Regions from separate parts of the Homo sapiens genome. Here region 2 is linked to region 1. Evidence: fine-mapped expression QTL. A gene starts in region 1. The other region holds a variant in brackets. All regions are shown on one strand. Distances are between the middles of the regions.

Region 1 (9,763 bases):
CATCAATTCATCATTTCATCATTTCATTTCATTATTTCATCATTTAATCATTTCACTTCATTTCATCATTTCATATCATTTCTTCATTTCACCATTTGATCTTTTCATTTCATTTCATCATTTCATCATTTCACTTCATCATTTCATCATTCCATTTCATTTCCTCATTTCATTTCACAATTTCATCATTTCATTTCATCATTCCATTTCATCATTTCACTTCATCTCATCATATCATCTTTCATTGCATTATTTCATTTCATCTCATCATTTCATTTCATCATTTCACTTCATCTCATCATTTCATTTCATCTCATAATTTCATTTCATCTTTTCATCTCATTTCATTTAATTATTTCGTTTCATTTCACCTTTTCATCTCATCGTTTCATTTCATCAATTCATCATTTAATTTCATTTTTTCATCATTTCATCATTCACTTCATTTCATCATTTCATCATTTCATATCATTTCCTCATCATTTCATCTTTTCATTTCATCATTTCATCATTTCATTTCACTTCATTATTTCATTTCACTTCATTATTTCATTTCATTTCATTTCACCATTTCATGTCATCACTTCATCATTTCATTTCATCATTCCATTTCATCATTTCATTTCATTTCATCATCATTTCATCTCATTATTTCATTTCTTCATTTCATCATTTCGTTTCATTTCATCATTTCATTTCATCATTTCATCATTTCTTTTCATTTCAGTGATACATGTATTTAATTGCTAATGCGATGCCCAGGAGACACCCTATTTCCCTTTGTAAAACACCTCCTTCAACAAAAGGCAACTTCTCATGGCTGGCTAAGTCTACAGGGATACCAGCCTCTCTTCAACCACCCAATTTCATTTAGAACCTCAAACAGCACCTCAGTTTCATAAAAACCTAAAACATAAACACAACACTTGGTTGTAAGTGAGCCGACAGTTTCTTGTCTCTTTCTCTGCTCAAGGCTTAAGGCCGTGTCTCCCCAACTACATTCAGTGGAAGAAAAGATCCCATGGACAAATAAGTTTGAGAATTGTTGTTGCAGGAATTCTCAGAACTTTCAAAACACAAATCCTCATCCGCAGGGATCTTCAGGAGGGAGATGGCTGATGCAGCACAACTTTCTTTCACAGGAGTATCTTGCAGAATACAGTATGAGATACAGAAAGGCTGCATTGAGTCTTTTTAATGGCCCGGGCCTTGGTGGGGGTGGGGTAGGAGCTCTCCAGATAGCATCTAATGAGTAGGAACATTCAGGTGGCTTTTTTTTTTCCTTATTGGCAAAACTGTGTGTACACCATGAATGAAGCTGGTCTCCCTTATCCACGTCAAAACTAAACCCAAATTAATTGGCTAAATTGGGACTCAACACCTCCAGGAGCCACGCGGCAGAAAGCCCCAACACACTTTAAATTAGCTTACCTCATCATATTTCAGGAAAGCAAAACGCTTATGACCAGTATGCTGCTAATACAAGTCTACAGATAATGCTGTATGAAAAACTAGTTTTCCCAGTCATAGCTCGCATAGTCCACATTTTGCATTACACTTTCCCCCCCTTTTTAAAATTTTAAATACAGGTCTTTTTCTCTTCTTTTTTTCAATTTTAATTAAATTATACAAGACGGAGTCTCAGTATGTTGCCCAGGCTGGTCTTCAACTCCTGAGCTCAAGCGATACAACCATCTCCGCCTCCCAAAGTGCTGAGATTGCAGGCCTGAGACACTGTGCCTGGCCTTAAACACAAATCTTAATTCATTCTTACAATTATTCCGAGGTTACAAAAATGGAAGGGGAAGAAAAATGGCAAGTAGGTAGGCTGACTTCGGCTTCATTATTTGGAAGGACAGTTTGCTCGGTTAAAACACACTACTGCCTACAAAGGCCAAGACAACAGAAAAATACAGACTTACATAAATAGATTTTATATGTGACAGCAGTTTGAATGGAGACTTTTTCAATGCAATGAGAAACAGCTGTGCTTGGGAATAAATGACAACGAATTTTTTTTATCTCAACAGCTGTCCTGAGAGCATGTCTCTACATCTCTACCTGCATTCTGGATTCAGGGAGAAAGCCAAAACGGACGACAAGACACTAGATCAGCCGTGTCCAGCCCTTTGACTACAAGGACTTTTCCACCTATCTGTGGTGGTGGGTAGCATGAAAATTATGCACAAACCTTTTTTTTTTTTAACCCCATCAGCTGTTGTTAGCATTAGTGTATTTTATGTGCGGCCCAGGAGCATTCTTCTTCCAATGTGGCCCTGAGAAGCCAAAAGACTGGACACCTGTGCACTAGATCAAAAGGCTACTCCTTCTGGAAGCAATTGTAAAGAATTTCTGACATTATCTTGACATGAAAACCAATGGGTAGTGGGACAGAATGCAAAATCTTGAAGAATTTTTCTTGTCTTTTTTTTTTTTTTTTTTTTTTGAGTCACGGTCTTGCTCTGTGGCCCAGGCTGGAGTACACTGGTGAGATCAGAGCTCAGTGCAGGATCAAGTGCTCCTCCCGCCTCAGCCACAGTAGTAGCTGGGACTACAGATGCGCACAACCACCCCTGGCTAATATTTTATTTTTTGTAGAGATGGGGTCTCACTATATTGTCCAGGTTGGTCTCAAACTCCTTGACTCAAGGGATCCAGGAAAGGATAACAGGTGGGAGCCACCACACCTGGCTATGTGCATGAACTTTTAAGACAAACACAAGGCCCCACAAAAGTTAAGGTTTTTCCCACCTAATTTCCAGGGGGATCTTTTGGTGCAAGGCTGAGAAGCCCTTAAAAGTACACAGACAACTCCAAAGATTCAAGACAGTTCATTCGGGCTGAGCCAGCCCACTGGGCAGACTGACCTTCCAAAAAGACCCACCCATGACATACACCAGATGGCTCTCCAAGAATCTCTTCAGTCCTCAGGGTCCCTAACGTACTGGACAGAGCTAGGAAAGCAAACCCATTTGCTTCTTCCTGCAGGAAACCCCTTGAGGTTAAGACCCCACAATCACATGAGGATGGAGTGGCTCACCCTCAGTCAACAGGCCAGACTCAAGGTGGTATAATGTCTTAACCGCGGGTGCGGGCCTCCAGGTCTGACTCCCAACTCAGTTCTTCTTTAATAACCACACTTTGTTAATTTTCCTTAACAGGGGTTCCTGGCAAGTCATTTCTCCCTCGGGCCTTCGGTTTCCTCACCTACAAGATGAGAGGGCTGGACCAGATGGAAATTCAGGGGGTAAGGGGATGTCCTCACGCAGCCCACCCCCACCCCCACGGGACCCTGGAGCCTCCATCCCAGTTCCCACCACGCACCCGCTCCACAAATCCTGCCCAAGGTGAGGGCTGGTCCTGGGTCCTCTGGCTGCCGCATCAGCGAGTGCAGGAGGGAGGGGAAGCCTCCAAGGGGGTGACGTGGGCTCAAAGATGCAACTCGGCCAGGAGTGAACTGGGGCCCCCGAAGGAGGTGTCCGGGCCGCTCCTGGAGCCCAGCCCGGGTCCCCGAACCCCTTACCTCCAGGGTCTGTATCTCCTGCTGGGTGAGGTCGTTAGACACAGCGCACTTGGTGCACAGCCCGCACAGGCTGCCAATGAAGATGACGATGAGCTTCTGGAGCTGCCCGCACTGCTGCAGCGCCCGGCTGGCCGCAGCCCCTGTGCCACCCTCCGTGGCCGCCGCATCACCCCCACCACCGCCCTCCTTCTTCTCTCCCACCGCCTCCACAGGCAGCGCCACTCTATGCAGGCCACAGGGGCCTAGGCAAGGAGCCCGGGGCGCCGGCGCCTAGGCAAAGAATCCCTGAGCCAGGAGAGCTGGACCAGGAGCACCCCTCGGCGCTGCCCTTGCCAGGACGCCAGTAGAGCTGGCAGCCGAGTCTGCCGCTCCTGCCCTCAGAGCCGTGGCGGCGGGGACAAAAATCCTCGGTGGCGGGGGCAAAAAGTCGCGGTGACAAAAAGCGGCGGCGACCGGGGCAAAAAGTCGCGGCAGCAAAAAGCCGCGGCGGCGGGGGCAAAAAGCGGCGGCGACAGCGGCAAAAAGCCGTGGCGGCGGGGGCAAAACGCCGCGGCGGCGAAAAAGTCGCTGCGGCAGGGGGGCAAAAAGCCGTGACAGCGGGGCGCAAAAAGCCGTGGCGGGTAAAAGGCCGTGGCGAGTAAAAAGCCGCGATGGCAAAAAGCTGCGGCGGGCAAAAAGCCACGGCGGCGGTGGGGCAAAAAGCAGCGGCGGTGGCGGAGGGGCAAAAAGCCGCGGCAGCGAGGGGGCAGAAAGCCGCGGCGGCAAAAAGCCAAGGCGACGAGTGTGCAAAAAGCTGTGTCGGTGGTGGGGCAAAAAGCCGCGGCGGTCAAAAAGCCGAGGCAAGGTGGGGGCAAAAAGCCGCGGCGGCGGAGGGGCAAAAAGCCGCGGCGGCGGGTGTGTGGCAGAAAGCCGCGGCGGGCAAAAAGCCGCGGCGGCGAGGGGGGCACAAATCCGCGGCGGGCAAAAAGCCGCGGCGGCGGGGGGTAAAAAGCCGCGGCGGGCAAGAAGCCGAGGCGGGGTGGGGGCAAAAAGTCGCGGCGGCGGGGGGCAAAAAGTCGCGGCGGCAGGGGACAAAAAGCCGCGGCGGGTAAAAAGCCGTGGGGGCAGGGGGGAAAAAGCCACGGCGAGGAAAAAGCCGCGGCGGCGGGGGGGGCAAAAAGCGGCGGGGTGCAAAAAGCGGCGGGGTGCAAAAAGCGGCGGGGGACAAAAAGCCGCGGCGGCAAAATTCGCAGCGGCAAGGGGTCAAAAAGCCGCGGCGGGCTAAAAGCCCTGGCGCCGGGGGGGCACAAAGCAGCGGCGGGCAAAAAGCCGAGGCGGGGTGGGGGGAATAAGCCGCGGCGGCGGGGGGGCAAAAAGCCGTGGCGGCGGCGGTGGAGGGCGAAATAATGGAGATGGAGTGGAAGGCCGGCACAGCTTGGCATTGCTGGAGTGCGATGTGATAGGAAATGAGCAGCCAAAGACAAAAAGATGTAAGTAGGCTTGACTCATTGAAGCTAAGAACCCAGATGTTATCTTGAGGGTATTAACTAATAAGCAGTTTAAATCAGAATGACACATTCTGATTTGTTTCTTGTACGTTCACATTTGGCAGGCATAGATACTGTTTGAAGAGAGAAAAGTCAGTAGAGAGAGGTAACAAACTTAAATATGTGCCAAGTCTAGAAACAAGAGACCAGGGGGATAGGGACCTTTCAAAATAAAATGCAAGATTTGAAAACTGATTGGCTGGGGGATGAGGAAAAGGCAGGTCTTTAAGGTCCATCCCTGTTTTGCTTTAAGTTGTTAGGGGGTGGTTTTATCACATGTTGTAGAATATGTCATTTCAGTTTTGAACATCTTGAGTTAAATTGTCCTAGCATATCTTATGAATTTGATTTTCTTCCCTGGGAAGCTAATATTTCAAACACTTAAAGAGTATATAGATTTCCAACTTGTATCCAGTTTATAAAACTATCTCTAGGCTGCTGATTTCAGGAGGAGGCTTATGAGTATTCTCCTTGCAGAGAATATATCAGGAGTTAACAGCAGCTTCAATATTTGTGGATGACCAGTTAACTAAGCCACCTCTTAGTGTCTTTAGTTGGGAAATCTTAGCTGAAGATATTCAATAATGAACCAAGAGTGACTAAGAAATTCAATATTTAAGTATATTTCATTGTAATTAATTTGAATTGAAGTAGCCATATACAGCTAGTATTTACTATATTGAACAATGCAAATAAGAGGAAAAAATTAATAACCATCTCTAATACCACATGCCAAAATCCTCATCAATTTATTCTAGCTAAAGGAGTTGATCAGAAGCAGTAGTTGAAAGCACCAACTAAACCAGCTGGGGTTAGTTCACTGTCATTCTCTCAGAACCATCTCTCCTCTGAACAAAACAAGTACAAGAGTTCATTGTGAATCTGCATTCTCCTTGCCTATTTTAAGGTTTTGATGTTGACGCAAATTTGTGAAATCCCTCCTGTGGTGTGATATTTCGTTTTCCTTGCTTTGTGTTAGGACAAGAATGCTTCAGCTCTTAATTTAAAATTATGTTTCTCCCTCCTAGGTTGAGTGAACTTAGAATGCATTCTCTGACATATCCAAGATTTTGTTAATATGAATTTCGGGAAAAAAGCATACTTAATTAGCTAAGACGTCTTATTCTAAGCTTGACCCTATGTTCGACATCTTTTGAATTTCTAGTTGCATGGGCTGCTCTCTGACACTGGTTAGTGACCTGGAAGCTCTATTAATGTTAGGGGAGGTGGTGTATGAGCATTAGAGGTATCCTTGCAAGGAAAGACTTGTCTTATCTCAATACGTCTTTTTTTTTTGCACAGAAGAAAGTCAATGTCTGAGTCTTCTAAAATCTTCCTATTTCCAAATTGCAGATTATGATTGATTCCTAAACAAAGACCTAATTTTTGACTCAGAGACGTGGCAAGCTAGTGAATCACCATTATAATTTAACAATCTTCAAGATAAAATTATCTCTGATATTTAGATTTTGCCCAATTATTAAGATATTTGGGTGTTTAGTTAAGAATGGAAAACTCTAGTCTCTTGAGCAGAGACTATAAAGGCCTCAGATGATCATTTTTAATTTTATGCTCTTTTCTTTAACACCTTCAACACAGTTGGAAGCAGCCGATATTCCCCAGAGTTGTTGTGTTTTTTAAACCAAATGCATGGTTCAGTGGTAGAAAACTGGGCTGATCCAAGCTGTTTTCAGTAAACACTTCATTTCAGGTGACCCATTTCATATTAAATAATCTCTAGATCCTGTCTTCGAAACTAACTAGATCAGATAAACTACCCTGGATTTTCTCTTTTTAGGGTCTGAGAGCTGCAGTCACTTTTGTGAAAATGATTACAATGACAAGATAGAGTTGTAGATGGGGAAAATGTTTTGACTAATTTAAGCATAGTGGTATTTCATATGAGAATTTAAGTTACACACATTTGAAAATTATAATGGAGTCTCTTGGCTGAGCTTTAAAAAGAAATAGCGTTTAGGCTAAAAAGGGAACTGCTACCTCTCCTAAAATCAGAAAGATGTTACAGTAATTCTCCATTCTCTAGAATTATCAAGAAGCACCTTTGTGATGATTTACTTTTGCTCTTGCGAGTGTGAGCCCGTGTAGTCGTGGAACCATCAATTAGAATGGTGGCTTTCTGATCCCAAAGTCACTCATTCTGAAAACAATATTTTTCATAAATTTGAAAGTGAGAAGTTTTGATCTTGCCATTCCCAAGTAACTCTCTTAATAAGAGGCATCAGCATGCTTCAGTGACAGCTGTCACCTTCCATTGCTGAGAGTCATCTTTGAGTTCTCTATTTCACTCCCTACACTCCAATTTAGCTGCAGTTCTCTTGGCCAGTCCTATGAAATACATCCATGGCCTAACGACTTCTCACCACTACTACCACTCATGCTGACAGCATTCTCACCTAAGTCACTACCTTTTTTCGCTGGATTAGAGTAGCCTCCCAATTTATTTGCTCACATAACCTATTTATTCTACACAGTGCACCAGATACACCCCTTTGAAATGCAAACACAATCATATTATTCTCTGGTGAAATTATCTCATATATTCCTATCGCATTTAAAATTAATTCAGAATCATCCCATGATTATCAAAACCCTACATGCTCTTCCACAACATGGTTTACTTCCAAGATATCTCTTCAACATTTTTTTCACTGTACTGAATTGGTGACTAATAGTCATATTTTTGTTTTTGCTCAAAAAGTCTTGACTTGTAAATTTTTCAGTTTCTCCTTTATCCACAGGTAACTCTTTCCTGATAAGGCGAATTGCTTGCTTCCTTGAATTCTGCTCTCAAAGATACCCTTCATTTTCTACCTAATATTAATAACTTTAATCATTCATTATTCCATTACTATGCTCTATAGTGTATACAATTTCTGTTCTTTGTCATGTTATTAACTAAATTATTTATTGGGTCCAGTAACGTATTCCATAAATATTGTACACATAAAAATTGTGTTATTTTTATTCCTGTATGCTCAGCTGCCCAATAACAGTCTGAGGATTAACATATTTGTTAAATGCTCAAATACATTCTTTCACAAATATTAGTTTAATAATTTTATATTAAACTCCCTCTATACTTACAATATGAATTAGATAATTCAGAATAAACATTCCATTGGAAAAAGCTACACAATTTGTTATAAAACATCCTTAAAAGCATCAGAAAATTAATACAGCAATGAAGAATTACAGGACCAAATTAAGAATGGTATGAAAGCCTGTTTGTGACGCTTATGTTTGGGTTATCTCTTTATTTGAGTGACTATAAATCTCAAAAGAGAACTAAAGGGAGAAATAACCATATCTACTAACATGCTAAGGGTACTTAAACATCTCTTAGTAATTGAGAAAATTGAAAGAAAAGAAAAAAGAGAAAGGGAGAAAGAGAAACAGCGAAAGGGATAATGAAGGCGAGAAAGAAGAAGAGAAAGGAAGAGGAAGAAAAGTAAAAAGGAGGAGGGGGAAGGAAGAAGGAAGAAAGGTGAAAAGAAAGAATGGTAAACTTTTTAACAACATAATTTATCCTTCTAGAATATGAATGTTGGTCTATTTGATGATGTCCCACAAATTCATTAGTCTCTGCTCATTGTTTATTTTTTATTCTTTCTGTTTCTCAGAGACAGTATTTTCCATTTTCTTCTCTTCAAGTTCATGGCTTCCTCTGTGTGTGCAAATATACTCTTAAATCCCTCTGGTGATTTTTAAATTTTTATCATTGTAGTTTTCCACTCCAGAATTTGTTATCTCTTTGCTGATATTCCTACTTTTTAATATTTTTTCTGATTCCTTTATTTCTTTGTTTATGTTTTCCTTTTGACATTTGAGTATAATGAAGAGAGTTGTTTTAAAGTCTTTGTCTGGTAAGTTTGATGTCTGGGTTTCCTTAGGGATATTTTCTGTCACTTTATTTTGTTCCTTTGAATGAGCCACACTTTCCCATTCTTTGTATGCCTTGTAACGTTTTTTGAAAACTGGACATTCTAATAATTATAATTACTATGTGGTTACTCTGTAAATCAGACCTCCCCCTACAAACACAGTAATGTTTTGTGGTTTTAAATTTTCTTTACTTATTATATTGTTAAGGATTTTTTTTTTTAGTGAAATTTTCCAAAGTGATTTACAAAACTGTTTGGTTTATAAGGTGTGGTCACCGAAGTCTTTTTGTTTCCTTAACAAATGTTAAGCTAATGTTTTGACAGTGATTTTCTGGTATGTCAGGAACCAATCAAACAGGCATATACAAGAAAAACAAAAAGAAAAGCAAGTAATCATTGTCCAGCAAAATATGTCTGTAGGCCATGCAGACTGGCTTTGTGCTGGGTTCTTTAAAGCCGGCACAAAGTGTGTGTTCACTCTTGCACTGAGTGAAGTTCAAGTTCACTCTTGCACAGAGCTTGCACTGAGGGGAGGGATCGGCCAAGGTAAAAGTGTAGGGTCTTCTTATGACATTTGTCAGCATGTGGCTTAACCTATGAATACGTGTGACTTTGTAGACTCTCCCATGTACGTGAATGAGGCATGCGCCACCACGCCCAGCTAATTTTTTTGTGTTTTTAGTAGAGACGAGGTTTCTCCATGTTGATCAGGCTGGTCTCAAACTCCCGACCTCAGGTGATCCACCCGCCTCGGCCTCCCAAAGTGCTGGGATTACAGGCGTGAGCCACCACGCCCAGCAGATTTATTTATT
Region 2 (9,763 bases), 58 kb before region 1:
CTACTAAATTTAAGGGAAGTAAATGCAAAACTATGTTATCAAAATTATAATATTTAACTTTCTATATTACATATATCCATCAAATAGCTATACTGCTACATTCTGCATTGTATATAAATGTATTTGGAATATAAAATTGTATTTTCCCTATATTCCCATCTAATGGGGAATTTCATCAACATTATATTAAGATAATCGCATACTATTGCACATCAGGTTTTAGGATTATTTGTAGTTATCTATTTTCTACCTTTTACTGGACTAAATTATAATTAGTCTCTAAAATGCTTTATTGTACTTTGTCTAGAGTATTTTCCTCAATCCCATTTTGTCTGCAGAAAAGAATATTCAGAAAATTTCAAAGAACAGAACAGTAATGCCCTCATGGCATGGAAAGCACATGAGATTGCCCTAAAATACACAAATTCATTTCAAGTCATACACAAATGCACATACATATGTATGTATATGTTCATATATATATAATTTCAAATTCATGTATATGACAAAATTTTCAATTTAATAAATATGTATACACAAAAAATGAAATTAGAAATATTAGAAATATTTGACTAAAAGTCCAGATTCCTCACAAAATAACACAATTCAGTGTGTATCACTCTTTAAAATATGAAACTATGTATACTACTTCAAAATTATCAGAACTTTTCTGCATATGAATCCTGTAGTGGTACTAAAATTGCAACATAATCCTTTCAAATAACAGTGGCTGTTCCATCTGAACTCTAACCTTCTCAGGCTAAGATCAAAACCTGAGCTTAATTCAACTCCTTTCTTAAATCAAACTATGTGCCCAAACAAGGCAAAGCAAAAATACACAATAGTTTGAAAACTACATATTAGTGAAGCACTCATATTGGTTGATTTTTAAAGATATTTTACTAGAAAATAATGTTAAACCACTGAAAATAAAGGCATCTCAAAATGTAACCACTGGAGCTAGGTATAATTTTAACATTATAACCAACTGTAATAATTTGGCTTAAAAATCAAGACTCAGAGTACATAATGTTCTTCTTAAACACTTCTACATTGTATTCAAGTCAGTATTGACTTTGAAAATTTTTGTGACTTCAGATTTTGTATAGTTGTTTTTCTTAGACTTTTCCTATCTTCTACATTTTGTTATGGAATAATTCAGAGCAATAGTCCAGGTTATTCTTGATGTGAGAAATAGTGACAAATAGCACAACTCTAAAAGCTGACAGTATCTGTGAAGATAAGCAGCCAGCAGCATTTTATCTTGGTGTTGGAACAGAGGCGAGGGTGTGAGAATATGGAAATTAACTTCCAATTTTGAGCCACCTCTATTGCCTTTGAAGAGATCCTTCTCCTCATTACTACCCCATACCTACCCAGTTTTCACAATATTCTTTTTTTTTAAGAGCAACCCTTGTTGATACATTTCTCTCATGTATACTATTGTATTTATAAGCTTATGATCTGATTAACACAGAAAATAAATGGATCAACAGCAAAATAATTGATAAATTGATAAACTCTTGGTGACTCCACATTGTTTTAATTGCAGACAAAGACATTAAGAAACTATAAAATTATAACATCAACATCTTTTCAAAAACAGCGGTTTGCTGAACACCCATCAAGTCAGAATATTTACTGGTATTTGATTTACAGGTGAAACAGAGGACAGCAGTAAAATGTGATCCAGACCAGGACAGATGTTTGTTGGTGCAATCCCAACTGTAGGTGTCACTAATATTCAAATAGTAGATTAGTGGCTTATACCAGACTCACAGATAGTATTTTTTATAGTTTTGGGCATGTTCATTTGACCATCAATTCATTACCATGTCCTCTAGTTGACAGTTCTCCAACCTGTTGCCCATCAAAATCAATTTTTGAAATGTCTTACAAGCACAGTTGTAAGTACAGTCTAATTCAGATCTACTTAATCAGAATCTTTGGGAAGAAAATGTAAAATTTTTCCCTCCTTCCTTCCCTTCATCCCTTTTTCCCTCCATCTTCTTTCCCCCGTTTTTCTCCCTCCCTCCAGGCATATTATATGACAAAAAAATTAATACTAGATAAAAGAGAGAAATAATGAAAATAAATAAATCAGTATTAAAAATATTTACTTAATAGAACAAAAGTAAATATTTGAATAATTTTTTGAATGAAAAATATGACTTATCAGCTCATATAAAAGTTGTACCAAACTGTTCAAAACCAGATATAATACCAAAGAAGATAACTCCATGTTTTTGTTTTTGCTTTTTTGAGACAAGGTCTTACTCTGTTGCCCACGCTGGAGTACAGTGGTGTGATCACAACTCATTGCAGCCTCGACCTCCGGGGCTCGAATGATCCTCCTGCCTCAGCCTCCTAAGTAGCTGGCACTACAGGCACACGCCACCATGCCTGCCTATTTTTTTCTATTTTTTGTAGAGACAGAGGTTTGCCATGTTGCCCAGGTTGGTCTCAAACTCCTGGACTCAAGCGATCCCGCCTCACCCTCCCAAATTGCTGGGATTACAGGTATAAGCCCCCACAACTGGCCAACAACAGCATTTTAGGCCTTTTAAAATAAGTATTTATTTCAAGGGTGAGAGGTTCCCACTATCATGTTTCTATGGCATTTTATTGAAACTTCTGAAGGTCCAATATGATTGGTTTAGTTGCCTACTTATATACATCTGTAATATGAATTTCTTAAAGGAAATTTAATAGTACTGAGTTTGTCTCTAATTTGGCCCAATTTTTCCTGCTCCTTCCTTGCTTCCACTGCCTAACACACATTTTCCCATCTGTAATTTGTCAGGGTTCTCCAGAGGAACAGAACCAATAGGATATATGTATATATAAAAGGGAGTTTATTAGGAAGAATTGGCTCACATGATTACAAAGTGAAATCCCACAATAGGCATTCTGCAAGCTGAAGAAGAGAGAAGTTGGTAGTGGCTCAGTCCAAGTCCAAAAGCCCCAAAACCGGGAATCCAACAGTACAGCCTTCAGTCTGTGGCAGAAGGCCTGAGAGCCCTGGGGAAGCTGCTGGTACAAGTTTCAGAGCCCAAAGACCAAAGAAATTGGAGTATGATGTCCAAGGGCAGGAAGAGCAGAAGCAAGCAACCAGCATGGAAAGAAAAAAGAGAGCTGCCTGCCTTGTCCTAGCTGGCCGGCAGCCAATTAGATGGTGCCCACCCACATTTAGTGTGAGTCTTCCTCTCCCAGTCCACTGACTGAAATGTCAGTCTCTTCTGGAAACACACTCAGACACACAGAGAAACAATACTTTACCAGCCATCTAGGCATCCCACAATCCAATCACGTTGGCACCTAATATTAACCATCATGCTATCTCATTCATCTCTTAAATTCCCTTTCTTCCTTCTAAATTAAGCTTGTACATTCAGTAAATAATTATTGAATGCCTATTTAGTGCCAAGAGTTGTGATTCCATAGAAAATACAAAATGGAATTAAGCTTTGTTTCTTCATCAAAGATATTACTGTCCTGCTGTTGGGAGTGATAGGTAAATAAATAATTACAGAAAGGTATAACGAAGATATGCCTGGAACCGATCCCCAATGAATATCAAGGGACAACTGTATATCATTACTATTTAGGCTTTAATGTGTCTACTTGACTGTGCTGAACTACATTTTCCAGCATTCCCTTAATTGTATGTTAGGGTGGACCACAAGGGAGACATTTGGCAGATCTGAAGAGCAGATAGGAAGCAACAACTTTTATTGCTAACACTTGTTGTTGCTGATCTTTGAAATGCAGCTAAAGCAGTATTGGGAGGAAAGTTTACAGTGCTAAAATCCTACATCAAGAAGTTAGAAAGATCTCAAATTAACAATTTAACAGTGTACTTAGAGGAACTAGAAAGAAAAGAATAAGCCAACCCCAAAGCTAGCAAAAGAAAGAAATTAACTAAAGTCAGAGCACTGAATGAAATTGAGATGCAAAAACTTATACAAAAGATTAATGAAACCAAAAGTCTGTTCTTTTATAGATGAAACAAGATTGATAGACCACTAGCTAGATTAACAAGAAAGAAGATCCAAATAAGCACAATCAGAAATGACAAAGATGTCATTACAGCTGATCCCACAGAAATACGAAGGATCCTCAGAGATTATTACGAACACCTCTGAGCACACAAATTAGAAAACCTAGAGGAAATGGATAAATTCCTGGACATGCATAACCACCCAAGATTGAACCAGGAAGAAAGTGAAAACTTGAACAGACCAATAACAAGTTCCAAAATTGAATCAGTAATTTAAAAAAACCTACGAACAAAAAAAAAGGCTTGGACCAGATAGATCCACAAATGAATTCTACCAGACATACAAAGAACTGGTACTAATTCTACTGAAACTACTGCAAAAAATCAAGGAGGATGTACTCCTCCCTAACTTATTCTATGAAGCCAGCATCATTCTGATACCAGAATCTGGCAGACACACAACAACAACAAAAAAGAAAACTTCACACCAATATCACTGGTGAACATAGACACAAAAATCCTCAACAAAGTACTAGCAAACCATGTTCAGCAGCACATCAAAAAGTTAATTTATCACAATCAAGTAGGCTTTATCCCTGGGATGCAGGATCGGTTTAACATATGCAAATCAATAAATGTGATTCACTCCATAAACGGAATTAAAATAAAAAACCATATGATCATCTCAAAAATGCAAAAAAAGCTTTTGATAAACTCCAACATCTTTTCATGATTAAAAACTCTCAACAAATTAGGCATCAAAGGAACATACCTCAAAATAACAAGAGCCATCTATGACGAACCCACAGCCAACATCAGACTGAATGGGCAAAAGCTGAACCATTCTCTTTGAGAAATGGAACAAGACAAAGATGTCCACTCTCACCACTCCAATTCAACATAGTACTGGAAGTCCTAGCCAGAGCAATCAGAAAACAGAAATAAAAGAAATACCCTTCTTGATATCAGCGATGGCTAATAATTTATGGCTAAGTCCTCAAAAGCAATTGCAACTAAAACAAAAATTGATTAGTGGAACCTAATTAAAGTAAAACACTCCTGCACAGCAAGAGAAACTGTAAGGAAGTAAACAGACAACCTGCAGAATGAAAGAATATACTTGCAATCTATGCATCCAACAAAAGCCTAATATCCAGAATATATAATAAACTTAAAGAAATCAACAAGTAAAAGATGAATAACCCCATTAAAAATTGGACAAAGGACATAAACAGATATTTCTCAAAAGACAACATACAAGCAGCCAACAAACATGTGAAAAAGTGCTAATCAACTCATTATCGGAGAAATACAAGTCAAAACCATAATGAGACACCAGATCACACCTGTCCAAAAGGCTTTTGTTGAAAAGTCAAAAAATAACTGATGTTGGTGAGGTTACAGAGAAAAAGGACACTCAGACACTGTTGGTGAAGATGTAAATTAGCCCAGCCACTATGCATTACAGAGAGTAGTTTGAATACTTCTCAAAGACCTAAGAGTTTAACTATCATTTGACGCAGCAATTTCATTAATGGGTATATACCCAAAGGAAA[A/C]TAAATTAGTCTATCAAAGGACACATTCACCTGTATGTTCTTTGCAGCACTATTTACAATAGCAAAAACATGGAATCAACCCAGGTGCCTATCAACAGCAGTTTGGTAAAGAAAATGTGTACATATACACCATGGAATACTATGCAGCCATAAAAAATGAAATCATGTCATTTGCTGCAACATGGTTGCAGCTGGAGGCCATTATTTTAAGCAAACTAATGCAGAAACAGAAAACTAAATACTGCATATTCTAACTTATAAGCAGGGCTAGACATTGAATAAATGCTGACATAAAGATGGGAAAAACAGACACTGAGGACTACTAGAATGGGGAGAGGGGAAGGGAGTAAGAGCTAAAAAACTACCCATTGGATACTATGCCCATTACCTTAGTGAAGGGTTCAGTCATACCCCAAAACTCAGTGTCATGTAATACACGTTTTTAATAAACTTGCACATGTATTCCCTGATTCTAATATAAAAGTTGAAAAAGAAAAAAACATAAAAAAAGAATAGCATAATATTTGCATATAACCTACACACGTTCTCCCATATACTTTAAATCATCTCTAGATTAGTTATAATATCTAATGCATTGCAAATGCTACATAGTTCGCTATACTGTTGTATTATTTAGAAAATCGTGACAAATGGAAGAAGTCTGTATATGTTCAATACTGATGCAACCACTCATTTTTTAAAAAATACTTTTGATCAATGGTTGATGAAATCCATAGATGCAGAACCCATGGGTACAAGAACTGACTGTGTTGTTCACCTACCAGGCTACTTTAGAAGAAAGTATGCTACCTGTTTTCTCACATTTAATAATTTCACTGTATTTGGCAGACAATATCTACATTCAATGCTGGGTATTGCATTTTAAGAAGGTCATGGAGGAAATGAAATGTGATCTGAGGGTGCATTCATAATAGTCATATGAGGAAGATTCTGGTGACCCATGAGATTTTTAAAAAGTTCACATGTGGAAGATGTAATAGGCTTATTTGGCTTACTGCAGAGGATCAACAGTTAAAATGTCATGGAAAGGTAATTTTTTTTCTTTCATTTAAAGTCTAAAAACTCGTCTTAAATGCAAGCTCTACACAAACAGGGAATAGTGTATTTGTGTGTGTGTGTGTGTGTATGGTGTGTATTTTTAAAATTTCCAATGCTCAGTACATATCCACATATGTTGAAGTGATCAAAAATGTTTGTTGGATTAATCAATTAATTGATGGACAACTGAGACAGTTTCCTTGAAAAAAATAAAATTGAAGTAGTTAACTGTGAAATGGGCTATCCATATATTCCATAACTCCATTTTGTTACAGCATAAATGTGCCATCTCTTTATAAGCATATATTCTTGTAAAAAAGATGATGAGAAAATTTTAAAACATAAGCAATCTGCATAAAAGATTCAGAATATCTCAGATCTCTGAGAATTTACATTTTAATAAAATCATGAAAATAGCACAATGGCTAAAAATATTTTATTATTTCTCAGGCAATCTGAATTTGTCGAATTATAAAACTAGATGGAGGGTAAAAAATTATCTTAATTTTATTTTGTAGTAGTGTTTATTATTCCTGAATGATATAATTGACCAAAATATGATTTCATTTCTCATTTACTTTTATTGGCTTAGTAGTAACTCATTCTACATCAAAGACAAAAACATTGAGGATACAAAATAGTGGCTACTTAGGAATGTTTTTGGTTTCACATGTTTTTGGTTTCACATTTAGGTACCTAGCATCTTTTGAGCAACCCACTTGTATGCATATATACAACCAATGTTTGCATCACAGGTCGCCTGCACCCCTAGCAGCAACCTACAAATGCAGTGAGAATACCTATCAATTCTCCTAAAACAAAACAAAACATCCTGCCTTTTACTCATAATCCAAGGTCCCTTCTGCCCAATGCCCCAAATATGAAGTATTTTATTACAGTACGTGAGATGATTTTCTATTCAAAATACTTCCTGAACAGTAATAGATTTTCAAAATAAATTAGTAACATTCCATGTATTTGTAAGCATAACAATGTGAATTTAATGTTGTATATAAAAACAAAACTATCCTTCTAGAGCTTTCTGTATCCCTCATTTCAAACTGTTGTATTTTTCTTAGTTTTTTGAAATTTGGTTGCAGAAAATTGAGTTAGTTATACTCTGAAGAGTATCATCAGCACAATCAAGACCCTTTGCTGGTTGATATTGACTTTCCCCTTTCATCCCTGATCCCTGTACCCATCACTTTTCTCACCTCTTAGATTCATTTACAGCAAGTCCTTGAACAACATCATTTAATTCAATGTCACTTTGTAATAACCGTAATAAGAAAACAAATGGATTCCCACACAAGACCACTCTCCATGCAGAATTTGCATGTTCTCTCCATGTTTGCATGGATTTTCTCCAGATATTCCAGTTTCCTCCCACGTCCCAAAGATGTGCATGTTCTGTTAATTGGTATGTCGAAGTTGTTCCAGGATGGGCTGGCGTGGGTGTGTATGTGAGTGTGCCCTGTGATAGAATAGCATCCTGTCCAGGGTTGGATCCTGCCAGGATAGACTCTGGCCACCCATGCCCTGAATTGGAATATGCAAGTTAGAAAATAAATGAATGAATGAATGAATGAATACAAATTATTTTAAAATAAAAATTAGTAAACTATACAATAATCCTACAAATGCTCGACAATAAACAGTGAGGTACAAAAGCCCTCATGGAGCCATATTTGTGATTGTTTTTGAGCTGCATAGTGGTAGGACGTCCTGATTAAAACTTTCACTTTGCAACATTTATTCTTTGATTTAACCCATGACCGCTATGACTGCTGTAACTCACTGATTCACCAAAAATTAAGTAAATAATTACTTTACTTGTTTCTATTCATCTTTCTTATACGTATGTATAGCTCACATTTATTTCAATGTTTAATATAAGAAGTGTTTGGGGCCTTTATTTAGAAATTTGGTGATGTTTTTGTGTCCAGAAATATGCCAGAAATAGCAACTTAACTCCTGTTTATATCAATTAGCTTATGGTAAAATTGGTTCCAATATTCATCATTTTGCCTAAAGTCACAGTTTCCAAGAAGTTACCGACAACAGTAAGTGAGGACTTACTGGATATCCCCGCAAATTGTATTGAATTTTGGGAATGTCAGTGTTTTAAACTTTTTCCTTTGCCCTCTTCTTCCCCCCTGGATTTTCTGTCTTTTCCATGTTGATTTTCATGGATTCTTTCCCTAATCTAGATGTCAATCTAGAATATTTATTTATTTTATACATTGTAAATATCTTTTCTGAATTAGTCAACAACTGTTTAACTTTGTCTCTATTTCTTCATTAAAATAAACCTTTAATTGTAATGTAATCAAATCCATAATTTCTTTTTTTCTCCCTCCTTCCTCCCTCCCTCCCTCCCTCCCTCCCTCCCTTCCTTCCTTCTTTCCTTTATAGTTTATCCTCCTAGGGTCATACTCAACATGATTTTCCACTACCTCCAGGTAACACTTATATTCTCATGATTTTTTTTCCTTCTTAATAATTCTACTTTTCACTAATTTAATGTGTGGCATATGGCCTTAACTTATTTTTTCAATATTCTGATGCTATCTACCAAACTGTGTTTCCCCAAATCATTTATAGTTCAACTTTATTATAAATCAAATTAACACACATGTTTATAACTGCATGTTTGTGTCTATTTCTGAGCTCTCTGTTATGTCATCTTTCTTTCATCTGTGATGAATACCACACTGGTTTCATTATTATTATTATCATGACTTTGTACTTATATTGTGTCTAGCAAGATGTGTCCCCATTCCTTGCTTTTCTTTCTTTCTTTTTTATTTTTTTTTTGATGGAGTCTCACTCTGTCACCCAGGGCGGAGTGCAATGGTGCAATCTCGACTCACTGCAACCTCCCCCTCCCAGGTTCAAGCAATTCTCCTGCCTCAGCCTCCCAAGTAGCTGGGATTACAGGTGCGTGCCACTATGCCCAGATAATTTTTGTATTTTTAGTAGAGACGGGGTTTCACCATGTTAGTCAGGCTGGTCTCAAACTCCTGACCTCAGGTAATCCGCCCACCTCAGCCTTCCAAAGTGCTGGGATTACAGGCGTGAGCCACCACACCTGGCTGCTTTTCTTTAAATAAAAGTAACTAAACTATTCATAGACCTTTATTCTTCC

Alleles and levels. Positions count from the first base shown, and alleles are read on the strand shown. Sizes are in standard deviations (SD) of each study's normalised expression.
With allele C in place of A in region 2, the expression in aorta of the gene that starts at base 5,256 in region 1 is higher (large effect, 1.9 SD a copy in GTEx).

Evidence for each region. PIP is the estimated chance that this variant, and not a neighbour inherited with it, causes the effect.
Region 2: its variant is fine-mapped to the expression of LINC02798 in aorta (GTEx, PIP above 0.99). The same link has a PIP of 0.9 or more in cerebellar hemisphere, esophagus muscle, gastroesophageal junction and subcutaneous fat.

Annotation. Positions count from the first base shown.
Region 1 is chr1:121,391,065-121,400,827 of GRCh38, reverse strand. It overlaps LINC02798 (long intergenic non-protein coding RNA 2798), which reads right to left and starts at 5,256. Exons shown (of 2, transcript XM_047438024.1): 1 at 3,524-5,256. The coding sequence starts at 4,944. The coding sequence ends at 3,901. It overlaps SRGAP2C (SLIT-ROBO Rho GTPase activating protein 2C), which reads right to left. Exons shown (of 10, transcript NM_001329984.2): 10 at 7,954-9,763. SRGAP2-AS1 (SRGAP2 antisense RNA 1) reads left to right here and starts at 2,923. Exons shown (of 4, transcript NR_104189.1): 1 at 2,923-3,065; 2 at 3,162-3,347. RefSeq lists a silencer at 4,885-5,179.
Region 2 is chr1:121,448,627-121,458,389 of GRCh38, reverse strand. All of the region lies in intron 1 of LINC02798 (long intergenic non-protein coding RNA 2798), which reads right to left. Among named protein-coding and RNA genes, the nearest start is that of SRGAP2-AS1, 56 kb to the right of the region's middle. The variant A/C (reference allele first, on the strand shown) is at 5,557.